2 separate regions of the Homo sapiens genome follow, and region 2 is linked to region 1. The links come from fine-mapping of genetic effects on gene expression. A gene starts in region 1. The other region holds a variant in brackets. All regions are shown on one strand. Distances are from middle to middle.

What was found. PIP is the estimated chance that this variant, and not a neighbour inherited with it, causes the effect. A credible set is the group of variants that fine-mapping cannot tell apart.
Region 2: its variant is the best candidate, but not a certain one, in a credible set for the expression of RHBDL3 in amygdala (GTEx, PIP 0.69).

The regions. Positions count from the first base shown.
Region 1 is chr17:32,261,693-32,270,702 of GRCh38, reverse strand. It overlaps RHBDL3 (rhomboid like 3), which reads right to left and starts at 4,871. Exons shown (of 9, transcript NM_138328.3): 1 at 4,403-4,871; 2 at 2,778-2,801. The coding sequence starts at 4,513. It overlaps LOC105371731 (a long non-coding RNA gene), which reads left to right and starts at 5,252. Exons shown (of 3, transcript XR_934665.2): 1 at 5,252-5,438; 2 at 5,807-5,957.
Region 2 is chr17:32,353,693-32,362,702 of GRCh38, reverse strand. It overlaps ZNF207 (zinc finger protein 207), which reads right to left. Exons shown (of 12, transcript NM_001098507.2): 3 at 4,062-4,200; 4 at 1,938-2,105; 5 at 1,736-1,811; 6 at 1,188-1,235. Among named protein-coding and RNA genes, the nearest start is that of ZNF207, 8.0 kb to the right of the region's middle. RefSeq lists a silencer at 4,826-5,026 and an enhancer at 7,962-8,463. The variant G/C (reference allele first, on the strand shown) is at 4,798.

The sequences.
Region 1 (9,010 bases):
GGACCCATGGGGAAGAATCGGGGGAGTGAGGGTGCGTGGCATGGATTGGCCCTGCTAACACTCCTGCTTGAGTGGGCCAGATGCCACAATGCCAGGGAGGGGGATGCAGAAGCTTCCATGGGACTGGGGTCACCTGCTTTCATCACCTCCAGTCCCCACAAAAGGTATCCTGGCCATTTAGTTCGACGGTGACCATATAGGACCAACAAGACCAACACCATGGCTTCTAGCCCTTGGGGTCCAGTTGGCGTCATGCTAGATCAAGGCTACTCCACATGCTGAAGAACCAGACATTATGGAGGGACTGGTCTAATCCATCCCTAACACCTGGAAAACAGACCCTAGCAGATCCCAGTTTGAAATTGGGCTACCACTGGTGTCTGCTTGACCCAAGAAGGGAGGGAGGAGATACTTGACTGGTTCTAGCCACCCATGCCATTGATCTCTGGAAGGCGAACTCCAGAGTCACTTGTGCTTACAGGGACTCTGAGAGGTGTCATGTCCCATCCATGACTGCAGTTTGATCTATCAGGGTTGCTTGCTTCTTTTTTTTTTTTTTTTTTTTTTTTTGAGAAAGGGTCTCACTTTTTGGGAGGCCATCCTCCTGTCTCAGCCTCCCAAAATGCTGGGATTACCGGCGTTAGCCACTGTGCCTGGCCTAATTTCTTTCCTAGAATTAATTCTGGGCAGGCCTCCCAGAAGCAGGGGTATGCTCTTTGTGACACCCAGGACCCAGGACCTACCTTCAGTTGGAAAAATTCGATTTAATAGACCACTAGCTACTATTAGGTGCTACACATTCTTTCTGCTCCCTTGAGTTCCAAAATCTTCCTACTAAAAGCTCTCTTCCTTTCACCCAAATGGTTTGTTTTAAAATGTACACATACACACAGGGACTGGCAAAGGAAATTAATCAAATGAAAAAGATAGACACAGACAGAGAAAAAAAAAGAATGATACACTTTGTTCTAGGTTCTGATTCTAAATCTGGCAGGAGGTGTGAAGGGCTGGCAGCTTGGTGGTAGTGGTGGCAGTGGCGCAGCGGGCTCCCTCCTGCCTTGGGGCATCAGGCCAGCAGCTGCTGTACTCTTAGGAGCCAGAGGGAGAGATGCTCTACCCGTCAGGACAGGAGCCAGTGCATGCTTTGAACTTCAAACCACAGCCAGACCTCGTGGTTAATGTGGATGATCACCCCAAATCCTCACCCCAGGCCTTTCGCGCTGCAATTCCGTGTCATCACGCCCACTCCGGCATCTGCAACCGGCTGGCTCCTCTAACTGAACTTGTCTCAAACCAAAGTTGTCATTTTTGCCAAACGTCTCTCCTCACTCCAACTTGTTTTTTGTTTTTGTTTTGAGACAGGGTCCCACTCTGTCACTCAGGTTGGAGTGCAGTAGCACGATCGTGGCTCACTGCAGCCTCAACTTCCTGGGCTCAGGCAATCCTCCTGCCTCAGTCTCTCATGTAGCTGGAACCACAGGAGTGTGCTACCATGCCTGGCTGATTTTTTAATTTTTTGTAGAGATGAGGTCTCACTTTGTTGGCGAGGCTGGTCTTGAACTACTGGGTTCAAGTGATCCTCCCGCCTTAGCCTCCCAAAGTGTTGGGATTACAAGCGTGAGTCACCACACCTGGCCCCACTCCAACTTCTTTCCCTCCTAGGTTCAGAATCTCAAAGTTAGATATGTGGTTCCCCTCACCTACGGTCTATTAAGATCTTCCAATTCTTCCATCACCATGTCCCTCTTCCCGTCCATCCTCACTGTCACCTTCTTGCCTCTGTTCAGTGCTGCAGCTCCTGCCTAGCTTCCCTCATCCCCGTAGCCCATTCACTCCTTATCCCCTAAGACACTGGAGCTTTCCCAAGCCTGGCTTGGATCACATAACAACCCTGCTAAAAAACTTTCTAAGGCTTCCCCTGCCTACAACGAAGTCCTGGTTCAAGCTAATTTTTCAGCTTTATCTCCTTCTCCTACCCAACACATTCCCTCTGGCCCACTCACACCAATTTCTTAAAGTTGCACAAACTTCATGGCACAATCATTCTCACCCCAGGACTATAGCACTCAACTATCCTCCAACATGGGGCAAAGAGGGAGAAGGAAGCACATAACAGCACCCACCACGAATGCTAAGAGGAGAACCATTTCCTTGCTGAAGGTCAAATGTCCATCTCCAGGTTCAAAAGCCAATACTTGGCACCCCCAACTCCATGCCCTACACCTGGACTCCAGGCATTGCGAAGAATCACACACAATTTCCCCTCTGTAACCTCCCAGCACTCCCTCATCCCTATGACAGAATTAAAGACATTGAATTAGACTTCAAAAGAGTCCATACTGTGAGTCAGCCCCCAAGGATGGCAGAGATTTGACTTCAGCGGTGGCCATGGACCCTCCATAGTGGAGGTAGAAACGGAGAGGGATTGTCAGCCCAAGCCCTTCCCCCACCTCTCCAGCCCCCTACTGCAATCCCCTGGCATATGGAGGATTTCCCAGGCATTCAATATATAACGTCCAATTTCTACATGGTGTAAACCCGGCTCTGGTGCAGCAGAGTAGGGAGGAGGCAGGAGGGAGATCCTCTCAGGGGAGCCCATCTCTTCCTCCTGATACCTGGAGAGCAGTGTCGTTCAGCCCTAGAGATGCACAAAGCCACACCCCCACCCCACGTCACCATCTCAGGAGCGCGGAGCTAGGGAAGCCCACGCAAGCAGGGAGACTGAGACCGATTTCAGGGAGGGCTGGAAGGAAATGGGGGGTTAACTGCTCACATACCTGATCAAACAGGACTTTCCAGTGCTGGCAGAGAGGGAGGCCATGCAGGAGAGGAAGAAGAGGAGAGAAAGAAAGACACACTTATCACCAAGGTCTCTGTAGTCCTCGGATGTTTCTGACATAGCCTCCCAGCGGCTGCCCAGGAGTCATGACCAGGCTCAGGGACTGGCCACAGGAGAGCAGGGGAAGTCTGGGAGGAGCTCCCCAATGAGTCCACACTGAGCAGAGGGAGGAAACTCACAGTAAGGGATGGGGTGGGGGCGGGGGCGGCAAGGTGGGTGTTGCTGGTTCTGGAACTGGCAGAACAAGTGATTCTCAACAATTACTAAATAAAGGCGTCCAAATATGTCCAAGCGCCTCTAATAATTTCTGCTGCCTAAAGCTTATGTCCACAGCTACTCCCAGGCCTGGGAGAGCATGGCCAGGTGCAATTCCATCAGACCCCGGCGCAATGAGTCTCACCTGCTGGGAGCTAGAGCCCCCCCCTCCCCCCCCAGGAGAACTCACCTCTGCATAAACACTAACATTTTGCCTGCAGTTTTTTGTTTGTTTGTTCGTTTTTTGTTTTTTTGCGGGGAAGGGGGGGTGGTGAATGCCGAATGCGGTGAAGCCCACCCATTCTCTTCCAAGGCTGAGTCTAAGTGGTGACTACATCAGATTCTGCCAGGGGTTTAGGGCCAGAAGGAAGTGATAGATTTAACCGCAGACGCCAAAGAGAGAAGATCGTAAACTACCCCCCAACCCCATTCAGACTTTCCCGCTTTCGTTGTGTGGGTTGGGGGCCTGGTTTCACTTCCATCTCCCCACCCTGAGGGAGGAGTGGGCAGGGCAGGGTGTCTGCCCGGTTTTTCACCCCTATGTGTAGGTTAGCCCCGGGAGGTTAACCCAAGAAACTCCAGTTCCCAGGGCTTCGCAGGGCCGGCCCGCAGGACCGGAGGGATGGAGACCCGAGCAGCAGACGGCGGGGAAGCCCTCGGGGCAGCCCCTCCCTCTCCTCGCCCAGGGGACCGTCCCCTGGCACCGCCACGGTCTTGGACTCCCGGGCCTCCTTCTAGGAGCAAAGCCGCTCCCAGCACTCTTTGCCTCCCTGCTCCGGCCGGGGTCAGAGGCGGGGGCCGGCTTGAATTTCAATCAGTGTCGCGGCAAGGCAGGTGCCGGGCGGGAGCTAATCCGGGAGCGGAGGAAGGGGTCGCCAGGCCGGCTTGCATGGCCAGGGACGGGGACTCTGCGGCGTCCGCTCCTTCCCCAGCTCCGGGAGCTCGCAGGTCGCGGGCGTGAGGGGAGGGGGAGTCACCGCCGTGACGCGGCCGCCTCTGCGGGAAAACGCCGTGTCCCGGGCACTGCACCAGCGGCGGGGAGGGGGCTCCGGCGGTGACAGGTCCGCGGCGCAGTGGCGGTGCTGTGTCCCGCAGGGAAGCCGCGGGAACCAGAGCGGGGGAAGCGGTGCGCGCGCGTTTCGGGGAGACCGGTCCCTCCGCCCCCTCCTGCCCGCGGGGACCCGGCCAATCCGGGGCGCTCCCGCGTCACCCTGAAACCTCCAAGTTGCCCGGCGTGGGGCGAGACAGGGGCGGCTTTTCCCCCCGGCGCCCCCTAGAAAGTTTGCCGGGCGGGGAGGGGGCACTCACGTCCTCCGGCGCCGCGGGCAGCCGCTCCTCGGCCTCGGGTTCCAGCTCCTCGATGCGCTCCGCCTCGGCGCAGGCGGCCACCGCGGGGCCCGGGCTGGGGTGCTCGCCCATGGCCGAGACGGGGTCCGGGGGCGGCGGCGGCTGCGGGGCTCGTCCCGGGGCGCCGGGCTAACTTTGCGCCGCGGCGGCCGCGCCGCTCCAGGGGCTCAGTGCGCGCCGCGCCGCCTCCGCGCCCGCTCCGCAGCCCGCGCCCGCCCCCATGGCCCCGGTCCCCGCGCCGCCGCCGCCTCCTCGCGACCCCGGGACGCCCGGCCCCTCCGCCGCCAAACTTCACTGCGCTAGCTGCCCCGCCGGCCTCCGCCTCCGCCCCGGCCCTCGCGCCCGGCTCCGAGGCGAGGGCGCCCTTGGGCCGGCCCCGGCCCCGCCGCTCCCCGCGCTCCCTTCCCGCTTCTCGCGGCCCCCGCTCTGCGCCCGAGTCTCCTCCTCCCCGCGGAGTCCTCGGGGGCGGCGCGCGGGCGGGGGCGGGGCTGCTCGCGGGGAACGCCGGCCCCCGCCCCGCACCCCACCCCGGGCGCCGCCACCCGGGCCCAGTCGGTCAGAGCGGCGCGGCCCGGGAGCGGGAGGGCTGCGGCGGGGCTGGCGAGGAAGTGGTGGCGCTGCCCGGGGCGGGGATGGGGACTGCGCCGTCCCCGGCCCGGTCACCACCGGCCTGCACTCCGGGCCCGGGCTTGGCTCTTCCATCGGCTTAACCATCACTTGGAGGTGGCAGATATGTGATGGAGACACTATGTTGGCGACGTCAGGGTTAACTAGGAGTGAATTGGGGGCGCGATGTTGTAAGGACGGGATTCCTGCCTCCCGCCCCATTATCCTTACGCCCTATTCACTGCGGTCTCAGATTCTGGGAGGTCTCGGGAGGCCCAGAAATGGGAGAAGTCAGATTGCGGGGTCGTGGGCCCCAAAGCCTAAATCTTGCCCTTCCTACACCCAGAGCTAAGTGACCATGCCCAGGCTTCATTTGACCACATGGACAAAGGTAAGCCCAGGGAAATGCCCCATCTGGGGAGAGGGACGGTAAAGAAACTAAAGCAATCAGAAAGGAAGTTAGCCAAAACGGAGTAGGGGATCTTTTAAAGAAAACAATCGATGCTGTTTCCCTGCAGGAAAGCGCCCCCAAGAGAGACCATCTCCCGAAGCAGAGGCTCTGGCTGTAAATGGTGCTAGTGGCCGGCCTGGCAGGGGCCAGCTCTCCCCAGAGGCTCAGGAGCTTCTCCAGGAGGCATCTCGCAGTCAGTCCCCAGCCCACACCAAGGCTGTGCCCTTCCACTCCTCTTGCTTTCCTCTTCCCACCACCCACTCACTCACTAGTCTTTGCCCTCTTCCTTCCTCTGGGAAACGGAACAGGCTCCTTTCCATTAGTGAGAGCTGCAACTAATGCAGTCATCTTCAGAAAGCAAAGACATAACCCCGTGCCCAGGATCCGAACTGCGACCATCACCCAGCAATGACTGCTCCCCTTAAACACCGAGAAGGGAATTCACTTGATTCTAATTAGGTGAGTTTGCTACAGACACCAATTTTCATCTCTGTTTCAGAAAGTGTGATCATTTCAACTATTTTTGTTTCTCACCACCCTCCTCCCCATCCCTACTCTACTAACAAGTCAAGATCCTGCCAAGATTTCCTTGTAAATAAAACTGTCTGCATGGGGTGTGATTTTGAAAACAGCCTTCAGGGGACAGAAGAGAGGCTGATTCCTTTGTGAAGAGGAGCCCAGAAGGACAAATGACCGCTGGGGCCCTGGGGTCTGTGTCGCTGCCTCCCGCATCCCAGGCTGTCATTTGCATGACCGGTATGGGTGTTGGCTCTGTTATACTTAGATCTCTGGGACTAGAGAAGTGGGCCAGGAAGTCTGGTTCCAGGGGAACTGGAAGGAGAAGGGCACAGAAAAGGGTTGGCCACTCTGCTGGGATGCCCAGCCACCCTGGACAGTGTTCTGATACCAGCTACCCAGGGAGCTGCCTCTTCATCAGCCCAGGGACAGCTCTTATCAACATATCCAACTCTGTCATCCCTTCGTGGGGAAGGGAGCTTAGCAGGCTCAGTTCTGTTCCTGAACATGTATTAAGCTCCTACTAAGTACCAATGACAGAGCTTTGAGAATACAGAGGTGGATAAGAACCAGACCCTGCCCTCCAGAAATGGATAATTGGGGGTGACAGTCACATTCAACACAAGGGTAAGTCCTGGATTCAAGGGAAGCCCAGAAGGTGTAGAACTCCAAAGGAGGGGGTCGCTGTGGGTCCAGGAAGGCTTCCCAAAGGATAAGCCTCCAGAACTAGGCAACATGGAAAAGGTGAAGGAGGTGTTCCAGGTAGAGGGAACAGCACGACCAGGCTTGTGGAGCAGCATCATATGGGAGGCAAACGACAAGCAGTTTGGCATGGCTGGAAACTGGAGCACGATGACCAATCTAAAGAGCCCAGCCTGGACGGGAAGGTTGTGAGGGGCTGTGAGTTTCATGGGAAAAGAGCTTGGACTTTACCTAAGGGCAATAGGGAGCCATTGAAGGATTGTGAGCAGTAGAGTAATATTTAAAAGATCCCTGGCCAGGCGCGGTGGCTCACGGCTGTAATCCCAGCACTTTGGGAGACCAAGGCGGGCGGATCACGAGGTCAGGAGATCGAGACCGTCCTGGCTAACACGTTGAAACCCTGTCTCTACTAAAAAAATACAAAAAATTAGCCGGGCGTGGTGGTGGGCGCCTGTAATCCCAGCTACTCGGGAGGCTAAGGCAGGAGAATCACTTGACCACAGGAAGCGGAGCTTGCAGTGAGCCGAGATCTGCCACTGCACTCCAGCCTGGGCGACAGAGTGAGACTCCGTCTCAAAACAAACAAAAAAGATCCCTTTGGCTGTAGTGTAGAGTCTAGACAGGAGGGAGGTTGGCCTGAGCAGAGGGCCATGAGAGGTGCTGTCCAAGGAAGAGGTCACAAGGGCGGCAGCAGTTAGAATAAAAGGGAGAGGGAAGATGGGAAACATCCAGAAGGCTATCTTGTTCCTCCTTCTGTCCCTAGGAACATTTACCCCGCCTTGGCAGGCTATGTTTCCAAAAGTCTCCTAAGAAGGAATTCCTGATCTCTCACCAGGATTCTTGCTTCACGGGGCAGCTTCTCTCACCTTGGCCCTTGCTGGGAGGTGATGGTGTCTGGACTTGGAGACTGTTAGGACAAGTTGTTACATCCATCATCCTCCATGAGCCTGAGGCCACCCTTTACCTGTTGTCCTCAATGTCACCTACGCCCAGCTGGTCAGACCACTCTGCCCCTCAGCTCCAGGCGAATCTGCAACCCACTCCCGAGCAGGCAGTAGGACATGGGGCCTGGGGTCCAGGCCTAGAAAGCTCCAGGGGATAGGAGTGGCTAGGCACCCTGACACCTTTTGTTCTACTCTCACCTGAGACAGCCTAAGGACTGGCATATTCTGTGGCATTTTGGGGGCAGAGGAGGGAGTAGGCATGGTGTCACTTTCACTGACCAGCTGCAGCAGGCAGGCACTCGTCGATGCCTGGAGGTGTGCCATGCAGAGGCCCCTCCCTGGGAGAACCTTTGGCGCTAATGAGAAGTGACACGGAACTGGGCCTATTGGCACTTCTTCCTTGCTCTTCATTTTGCAAGTGCGCTACACCATGGCCTCTTTTAAGGTTCCTAACAAGACACTTGAAGTCAACGCAGAGCAGGATGAAGGGCTGGGGAAGGGTGGATCAAACTCGGTTTAGAAGGGCAGGAGCATGATGTTGAGATGAGCCTTGAAAGGGGCAAGCTTGTGGTAGAGAACGTGGAAGGGTTTCTAGGTGGAGGGAACTGCTGCGGCAAAGACACAGAGATAGGAAAGCTGTTGACTGTGTTGGGAACCATGAAGTGGCTGAGCACAAAGTGAGGATGGCCGGGCAGGCGAGGAGCACTGTGTCGCCAGAGTCCCCGAGTGCCAGTCTGAGGAGGTTGGACCTCGCCCAGTGGGAGATAGAGAAGCGGTGATGGCTTCTAACTGGAGCAGCATTTTAGGAAGATTAAGTTGGCGACAGCTCAGCAGTGCCATTCAGCTCACACGTGCTGAGTGTCCATTATGTGCCAGACCCTGGCCGAGGTACTGATAGTACAAAGGGGATGAGACCCGGGCCCTGGCCTCCTGGGGGAAAATGAGGTCATCCTCTAATGACAGTCCAGTGGGATAAGGGGGAGGAGAGAGAGAAGAGCCTTTCCAGGGCTGAGTCTCTCAAATGTGCCCTCCAAGAGAGGAAGGAGTTTTTTTAAGGACCCGATGTTCTGGTCCTGGGAACTGGGACAGTTGGCTGCCATGGAAAAGCCAGGAGTAGCTGCTGGAAGCGGGGAGAGGAAGGCAAAGGGGGCTGAGCAGTTTGTTTGTGGACACCTTGAGCTAATGAGAAGCCAGGGAAGAAACATGAAGGGCTGTAATTATTGCTCAAAGCAATGGCAATGCCCAGAAGGGGGGCAAACAGGGATGACTTTTTCTCCAGAACCTCTTTCACTTGGGGTTCATTCTGACATCTCCCTCTGCCAGACCCACACCCTCCGAGCCCCTTCTCTC
Region 2 (9,010 bases), 92 kb before region 1:
AATAAAAAAAAAATGTTGACAAAACATTTAAAGTCATTTGAGAACAAATATACTCTCAATATGTACAAGAGGCCTCATCTAAAATATGTGTAATGGGAAAGCAAATTCACCACTTTTTCCACTTGGAAAATATCCACAGAGTATTAAAGAAAAAGAAGAAATCTCTATTTCAGAGTTGTGTTGGATTTTGAAAAGAAAAAGATTGAATGAATGTACCCTGTGAAATGAGATTTTTTATTTGGCTAGGTGCAGCAGCTCATGCCTATAATCCCAGAAGTTTTGAGAGGCCAAGGCTCAAGGACTGCTTGAACTCAGGAGTTCAAACCAGGCTGGGCAAAAAGTGAGACCATAACTTTTTAAAAAAGCAAAAATTTTAAACATTAGCTGGGTGCAGTAGTGTGCGCCTGTAGTCCCAGATACTCAGAGGGCTGAGGTGGGAGGATCACTTGAGCCCAGGAGGTCAAGGCTGCAGTAAGCTGTGACTGCGCCACTGCACTGTAGTCTGGGCGACAGAGTAAGAGACCCTGTGTCAAATACATACATATACACACACACACACACACACACACACTTTTTTTTTTTAGAGAAAGGAAATACTACCACCAAAATTAAAGACACTCAAAAGTAAAACCAGATGGCCTATTTACAATAACTACCTACCACTAAACCATGACTTAAAAACACAACCCACTTATTTTTTCCCCTAAAAGAGCTCACCTTCAAATATCAGTGTCCAATTCACTTAAAAAATGATAAATTGGTCAATTTTCTTTCAAATTTTTTAAATTTTTGTGGGTAAATTCAGTTCTTGATTTAAAATTTTTATCAGAAGATTAACTTCTATTAATAGATTAGAAAATTCCATTACATCCTATAATAATAAAGCATGTAATTTCATAGAATATAGTCTTTCTTAAATACTAACCCTTATTAACAGGTCCCATTACTTTCAATAGTTTGGAGAAAATCACTGCACATTTGAAGTATGTTTATATGGGTCTATTACCGTTTCCTAAAAGATGTTTTATTTTCCTTCTTTAAGAGACCTGTGTTAATTAGCTTGCAAGTTTTAGTGAGGAAGGTTAGAAAATTTCTGAAGTCAACTGAATAGATACCATTAAACACACACATAAAAAAATGACAGTATGATTATACCTCCTGAATTACATTATGAATGAGATGCTTACATGTTTTCACCGCAAAATGACTGGGTGTATTTTCTCTGATGATGCAATCTGTGAAAATGTATGACAAAATCAAAATCTAACTGTGATTTTCAAAATACAGTGGGAAAGTGTATTGTATACCTCTCACATCCAACAATATTTAAGTAAAAGTGATGGGCACAAGCACCTCATATTCATTTTAGTTTTGATGCTTTGACAAATAAATCATTTACAGAGTTTCTCTGCTTCTTGTCACAACTACAAAGTGTCACAGATAATTCTGAATCTCAGAAACGCAAATCTATAAATAACCAACTACTTTAATCACAGTAAATGCAATTGAAGTAGATGGTTGCTTACATATACCCTAAAACCCAAAAATCTATTACTCAGAGGCAAATTTATATTCCTTAAATTTACTGGTTGATCCCTTTATTAGACAAGATATATAGAGCCCATACCTTCTAGAAGCAAAAAATGGAAAGTAACATTTCATTCATATAACATCCAAATTGAAAAAGATCATTACTAGGCACAAGCCTACAGGGCAATTAAAAGAATTTTCTTACCCAGGTGGCATGCCTGGCATAACTGGTGGCATTCCTGGCATCAGAGGAGGAACACCTGGCATTAATGGAGGTATGCCTACAAGCAAGAATTTCAATCAAAATAATAACAAATATTAAAGAGTTAGAGGGAAGAAAGTAATACTTCGATACAATATCAATAATGTCCTAAAAATGTTAGATTTTAAGCAATCCTATGTGCTACCTGGAGGCATTCCTGGTGCTCCTGGTACTGGTGGCAGTCCTGGCTGTGCCATTGGAGGAATATAACCTTGCTGAGGTTGAACAGGCTGTGGCTGAAATGAAGTTGAGGCTGCAGAGTCGTCATCATCATATTCATCAGAATCATCTTGTTGCTTCTTTTTTTGACTTTCTGTTAAAAAAAAAAAATTATTTCCATAGAGTAAAAACTAAGAAAGTTTATTTACAACATTCAATATTTAAAAATACATATATGGGTAAAATTACTTCATGAGATTTTTCTTCCCCAAAAATTCAATTAATACTGCTCTATGTTCTTCAAATGTGTTTTCGCCCTATATTAAACAAGATTAACGTTCTTTCCCTGTCCTATGAAAGGTAAAATGATTATCCTAAATCAGTATTTTTTCTTTTAAATTTTTAGTAAAGTCTTGCTCTGCGATGCAGGCTGTACAGCAGTGGCACGACTGCAGCTCACTGCACTCTCAAACTCCTGGGCTGAAGCGATCCTCCCGCCACAGTCTCCCAAGTAGCTGGGACTGCAGACACATGCCACCACACTGGGCTTTTTTTTTTTTTTTTTGGGGGGGGGGTAAAGGTGAGGTCTTGAACTTTTGGCCTCAAGTGATCCTACGGCCTCAGCTACCTAAAGCACTGAAATTATAGGAGTCCTTCATTTTCATATGCCTTAACACTTGCTAATTCTATTTGGAATTCAATTATGAATAATAATATAAGAAAATGGAATGATCCAAATGGTACTGCATATATACAAATCAAGTATGTCTTCAAAAACAGAGCTCAAATTTTAAATTCCAAATAAATCTATCATCTACCATTCAATTTTATCTATCTATCAAGTGATCAATCAATCGATTTATCTAAATAGGATCTCACTCTGTTGCCCAGACTGGAGAATTCACAGCTCACTGAAGCCTCAACCCCTTGGGCTCAAGAGATCCTCCCACCTCAGCTTAGACTATAGGCATGTGCCACCACACCCGGCTAATTTTTGTATTTTTTTTTTGTAAAGACAGGGTGTCATTCTCTATTGCCTAGGTTGGTCTCCCAATTTCTGGGCTCAAGCAATTTTCCTGCACTGCCTGCCCATAGTGCTGGGATTACAGGTGTGAGCCACTCCAACTACCCTACCATTAAATTTATAATTGAAAATACTAACTCTGGGCTTAAGTGAGGCTGAAAAAAGAATATTATCACAAGGGGAGAGAGATGGTGGCTCACACCTGTAATCCCAGCACTTAGGGAGGCCTCAGCAGGTAGATTGCTTGAGGTCAGGAGTTTGAGACCAGCCTGACCAACATGGTGAAACCCCGTTTCTACTAAAAAATATAAAAACTAGGCCAGGTGTGGTGACTCACATCTGTAATCCCAGCACTTTGGGAGGCCGAGGCGGGCAGATCACGAGGTCAGGAGTTCAAGACCAGCCTGACCAACATGGTGAAACCCTGTCTCTACTAAAAACACAAAAATTAGCCAGGTGTGGTGGCACACACCTCTAATCCCAGCTACTCCGAAGGCTGAGGCAGGAGAATTGCTTGAACCTGGGAAGCGGAGGTTGTGGTAAGCCGAGATCGCACCTCTGCACTCCAGCCTGGGCAACAGAGTGAGACTCCATCTCAAAACAAAAACAAAAACAAACAAAAATCAGCTGGGTGTGGTGGCTTGCGCCTGTAATCCCAGCACTTTGCGAGGCAAAAGTGGGCAAATCACCACTTAGGGTCTGGAGTTCGAGACCAGCCTGACCAACATGGTAAAACCCCGTATCTACTAAAAACACAAAAACTAGCCGGGCGTGGTAGTGCATGCCTGTAGTGCCAGCTACTCAGGAGGCCAAGTCAAGAGAATGGCTTGAACCTGGGAAGCAGAGGTTGCAGTGCAATGAGCCGAGATCATGCTACTGCACTCCAGCCTGGCAACAGAGCAAGACTCCACCTCAAAAAAGAAAAAAACAAACAAACAATCACTTAAACCCCGGAGGCAGAAGATGCAGAGAGCCCAGATCACACCACTGTACTCCAGCCTCGGCTGGACAGAGTAAGCCTCTGTCTCAAAAAAAAAAAAATTAAAAAAAATAAATAAATAAAATAAAACTTATCCCAATATTTACCTTGTGTTTTCTGTTCAAGAAGTCGTCGTCTTTCATCCATGTCTTTTTCTGGAATACCTTCCATACCATATATTTCCAACTCTATGTCTGTTCTTCCAGGTATTGCATTTGGTACGGCATCTATTGTTTCTTTATGTACCTAACAACAACAATTTCCATTAGATAAAAGTCTTTTTTAAGAATAATTCCAAGTTAATCAAAGACTGCTTAGTATAAAGAATAAATGTTCTATAGTGAGGCCATGTAGAGCCAATTCCCAGTTTTGCCATTCACTAGCTCTGTGACATTAAGCATGTCAGTGAACTTCTAAGCCTCAGTTTACTTCACCTATATAATAGCTAACTTCTAGAGTTGTTTTTAGGATTAAATACTGTATATAAAAAACACTTGGCGAGATGTCTAACATACAGTAAGCATTCAATAAACATTCTTTCAAGTTTACCATATAATCTTGATTACTTCAATTATTAGCAGTAACTAGTAGTCCTATCCAAATCAGGGATGTTTCAAGTGTGAATTAAGTAAAGATTATGAAACAGCCTCATATTAAGAATTAGAATATAGCCAGGCGAGGTGGCTCACATCTGTAATCCCAGCACTTGGGAGGCCAAGACGGGTGGATCACCTGAGGTCAGGAGTTTGAGACCAGCCTGGCCAACGTGGCAAAACCCTGTCCCGACTAAAAATACAAAAAATTAGTCGGGTGTGGTGGGGTCTGCCTGTAATCCCAGCTACT[G/C]GGGAGGCTGAGGAGGCAGAATCACTTGAAGTGAGCAGAGGTCACACCACTGCAATCCAGCCTGCGTGAGAGGGAGAGTCCCTCAAAAAAAACAAAAAAAAAATTAGCAGGGCGTGGTGGTGCACACCCATAATCCCAGTCACTCGACAGGCTGAGGCATGAGAATCACTTGAACCTGGGAGGCAGAGGTTGCAGTGAGCACTCCAGCCTGGGCAGATACTGAGAGACTGTCTCCAAAAAAAATAAATAAAAAATAAAAAGTCAGGTGGGGCGGCTCACGCCTGTAATCCCAGCACTTTGGGAGGCCGAGGCGGGCGGATCACGAGGTCAAGAGTTCGAGACCAGCCTGACCAACATGGTGAAACCCCATCTCTACTAAAAATACAAAAATTAGCCGGGCATGGTGGCACGTGCCTGTAATCCCAGCTACTCAGGAGGCTGAGGCAGAAGAATCGCTTGAACACGGGAGGCAGAGGTTACAGTGAGCCGAGACCGTGCCACGGCACTCTAGCCTGGGCAAGAGAGCGAGATTCTGTCTCAAAAAAAAAAAAAAATAATAATAATAATAATAATAATAATAATAATAATAATAATTAGAATAGCAAATTTTCTAAGTATAGATCTTGAGACAAGCCTCTGGTTACAAACTAGAAAAGTTACATTTGCAATCAGTATCACTTGTAACTAATGAGTTACGTGAGGCATTTTACTTTTTTTTTTTTTTAAGACAGGGTCTCACTCTGCCACCCAAGCAGGAGTACAGTGCCATTATCTCAGTTCACTGCAACCTCCGCCTCCCAAGCTCAAGCCACCCTCCCACCTCAGCCTCCCAAGTAACTGGGACTACAGGTGCGTGCCGCCATGCCTGGCTAATTTTTGTATTTTCTGTGGCGAGGTAGTTTTGTTATGTTCCCCAGGCTGCTCTCAAACTCCTGAACTCAAGGGATCCACCCACCTCAGTGTCCTAAAGTGCTGGGTTACAGAGGTGAGCCACCATGCCCAGCCCTGAGGCACTTTAACATGTTTATTGCAACACACTGAAAATCTGGGATTTTTTTTCATTATATTGTTTTGCTACATAAGCGCTTCTAATCTTCAGATCTGGGTAACTTTTGCCAATAATGTAATATCCCTGCCAGTCTTGGTTTCTTCAGCAAGCCATTTTGCTGAAGTAGATGTCAAAGTATTTTGCCTAGACTATCAAGCCTTTCTGGAAATGCTAATGCATGCTCAAGTTTGAGAAGCACTCATTTAGGCTAATGACTTAGATATATTTGCCCAAATAATACTCATTTTTTCTTTCCTCCTAAGACATTTTCATGTACGAACAGAAAAGTAACTACAAAAAGCTAAGTATTTTCTTCTTAGCAATGTATCTCACTTAAAGATTTGAAACTGGGGCATGCAAATCAAACTCAGAAATTATCTTAATATCTGATTGTTAAAAGCTATTCCTTATATTGCAATTAAAATATTTATGGATAAAGCGGCTTAACAAGTGACTTAATTGCCGTTTCCTAAGGTTTTTTGGAATATTTTGCTATTCTTAATAAAGAGATGATGCAACAGGCATTCTATAAACAATTACATTCACATACACACTAATCTTCACTACATTTTTGAGAAGGGCAACAATTAAAGGTGTATCTATTATGGTACAGCCAGAATTAGATTTCTTGGGACCCTGCCAAGCAAAGTCATAGCGTCTTGGTTGAAAAGACAGGAGCAAGCACTGATGAGAAACTGCAGGGAACCACCTAACTTACTAATAATGTCTTAGGGTTTATCATCTATAAAATTGGTATGATTTAACTGCCAGGTCTATCTCACAGGTTGCTGTGAAAATAGGACTAAATAAAGGCACTCAGACAATAATGTTACTAAGTTTCTCAACTAACCTTGAAGCTTCCACTCCACTTCTCTGCTCTTCATAAAGTGCAACTCCCTAAGAATGCCTTCGCTTCCTCTCCCTGTCTCTTCAAAGCACCGTAATCACACTTCACCCTCACCACTCTTGGAAATCGCTCTTTGTCAAGTCACCAATGACCTTATTAACCCAGTCTCAGTACTCTTACTGAACCAGCATTTGACTCAGTTAAATAACTCACTCCTTGAAACACGTCATTGACTTCCAGGGCACTACTCTTGGTTTTCCTACCTTTCATCTCCTTAGACGATTCCTTTTAATCTCCTGACCTTCAAATGTTGGAAGTGGCCTAGAGCAGAGAGCACCTAATTTCCAACCACACTACAGTCCTTACAAAGGACATCTGGTAGCGCGGCTTAAACTAGCCACCCTTACATTGTATGCGTCCAAATTTCTATCTCCTGTTTTAATTTCTATGAACTCCTGACTTGTACATCAAACTGCTTCGGTAACCTTTTCATCTGGATATTTAATAGACCTCAAACATACCTACACTCAAAATTAACACAGGACTCCCTTATTCTCATTCTTAAGCCTATTATCCCTGTAGCTTTTCACATCTCGTCATATGCTCAAAATAAACATTTTTGAGACAGGGTTTCACTCTTGTAGCCCAAGTTGGAGCTGAGTAGTGCTATCACGGCTCACTGCAGTCTCGTCCTCCCCAGCTCAAGCGATCCTCCTGCCTCAGCCTCCTGAGTAGCTGGGACACAGGCACGTGCCACCATGCCCAACTTTGCATTTTTTGTAGAGACAGGGTCTCATTATATTGCCCAGGCTAGTCTCGAACTATTAGGATCAAGTGATTAGTCCATCTCGGCCTACCAAAGTGCTGATTACAGGCGTGAGCCACCGCACCTAGCCAGACCATCTTGAGATCAACATCTTGAGACCACCCTTAACTCCTCACTTTTTCTTATACCCCATATCTAACCTATCAAACTCTGGTCTCTGTCACCATCTCCTCTTGTCTGGAATATTCTAAGTCTTCTAAAGTGGTCTCACCGTACTCTGCACTTTACTTTCAACCCTGCAGCCAGAAAAATCCTTTTAAAAAGTCTTACAGGCTGGGCGCAGTGGCTCACGCCTGTAATCCCAGCACTTTGGGAGGCCAAGGAAGGTGGATCAGGAGGTCAGGAGTTCAAGACCAGCCTGGCCAAGATGGTGAAACCCCATCTGTACTAAAAATACAAAACAATTAGCTAGGCACAATGGCAGGCGTCTGTAATCCCAGCTACTCGAGAGGCTGAGGCAGGAGAATTGCTTGAACCCGGAGGGCAGAGGCTGCGGTGAGCCGAGATCACGCCCACTGCACTCCAGCCTGGACGAAAGAGACTCCGTCTCAAGAAAAAAAAAAAAGTCTAATAGAGGCCAGCTGCAGTGACTTATGCCTGTAATCCCAGCACTTTGGGAGGCCAAAGTAGATGGGATCACTTGAGGCCAGGAGTTCAAGACCACCCTGGCCAACGTGGTGAAGCCCCATCTCTACTAAAAATACAACTCAGGCAGGCACGGTGGTGCATGCCTGTAATCCTAGCTATTTGGAAGGCTGATGCACAAGAATCACTTAAGCCCAGGAGGCGGAGGCTGCAGTGAGCACAAGACAGAGCAAAACTCCGTTTCAAAATAAAACAAAAAAAAAACTGACAGAGCATACATCTCTATTTAAACCCCTATTTCATTCAGAATTAAAGAAAATGGCCGGGCTCAGTGGCTCACAACTGTAATTCCAGCACTTTGGGAGGCCGAGTGGGAGAATCGATTGATCCTGGGAGTTGGGCGACCAGCCTGTGCAACATAGTGAGACCCTGTCTCTACAAAAATAAAATTTTAAAAATAGCCAGGTATGGTGGTACACAATTGTTGTCCCAGGTACTCAGGAGGCTAAGGTGGAAGGATCATTTGAGTAAGGGAGTTCAAAGTTGCGGTGAGCTATGATCTGCACTCCAGCCTGGACAACAGAATGAGACCCTGTCAATCAATCAAAACAAAATGTTCTTATCCACACTACCCAATATAAGTTAGCTACTTGACAGAGAAACTGAGCATTTAGATATTTATATCATTTTAAATAGCCACATGTAACTAATGGCTGCAACAGTGAACAGCTGTGAGTCTAACATGTAGTAGGTTCTCTAACAATTTTTTTTTTTTTTTTTTTTTTTTTGGAGACAGAGTCTCTGTCACCCAGGCTGGAGTGCAGTGGCACAAACTCAGCTCACCGCAAACTCTGCCTCCCGGGTTCAAGTGATTCTCCTGTCTCAGCACCCGCCTCGCGCCCCCCGC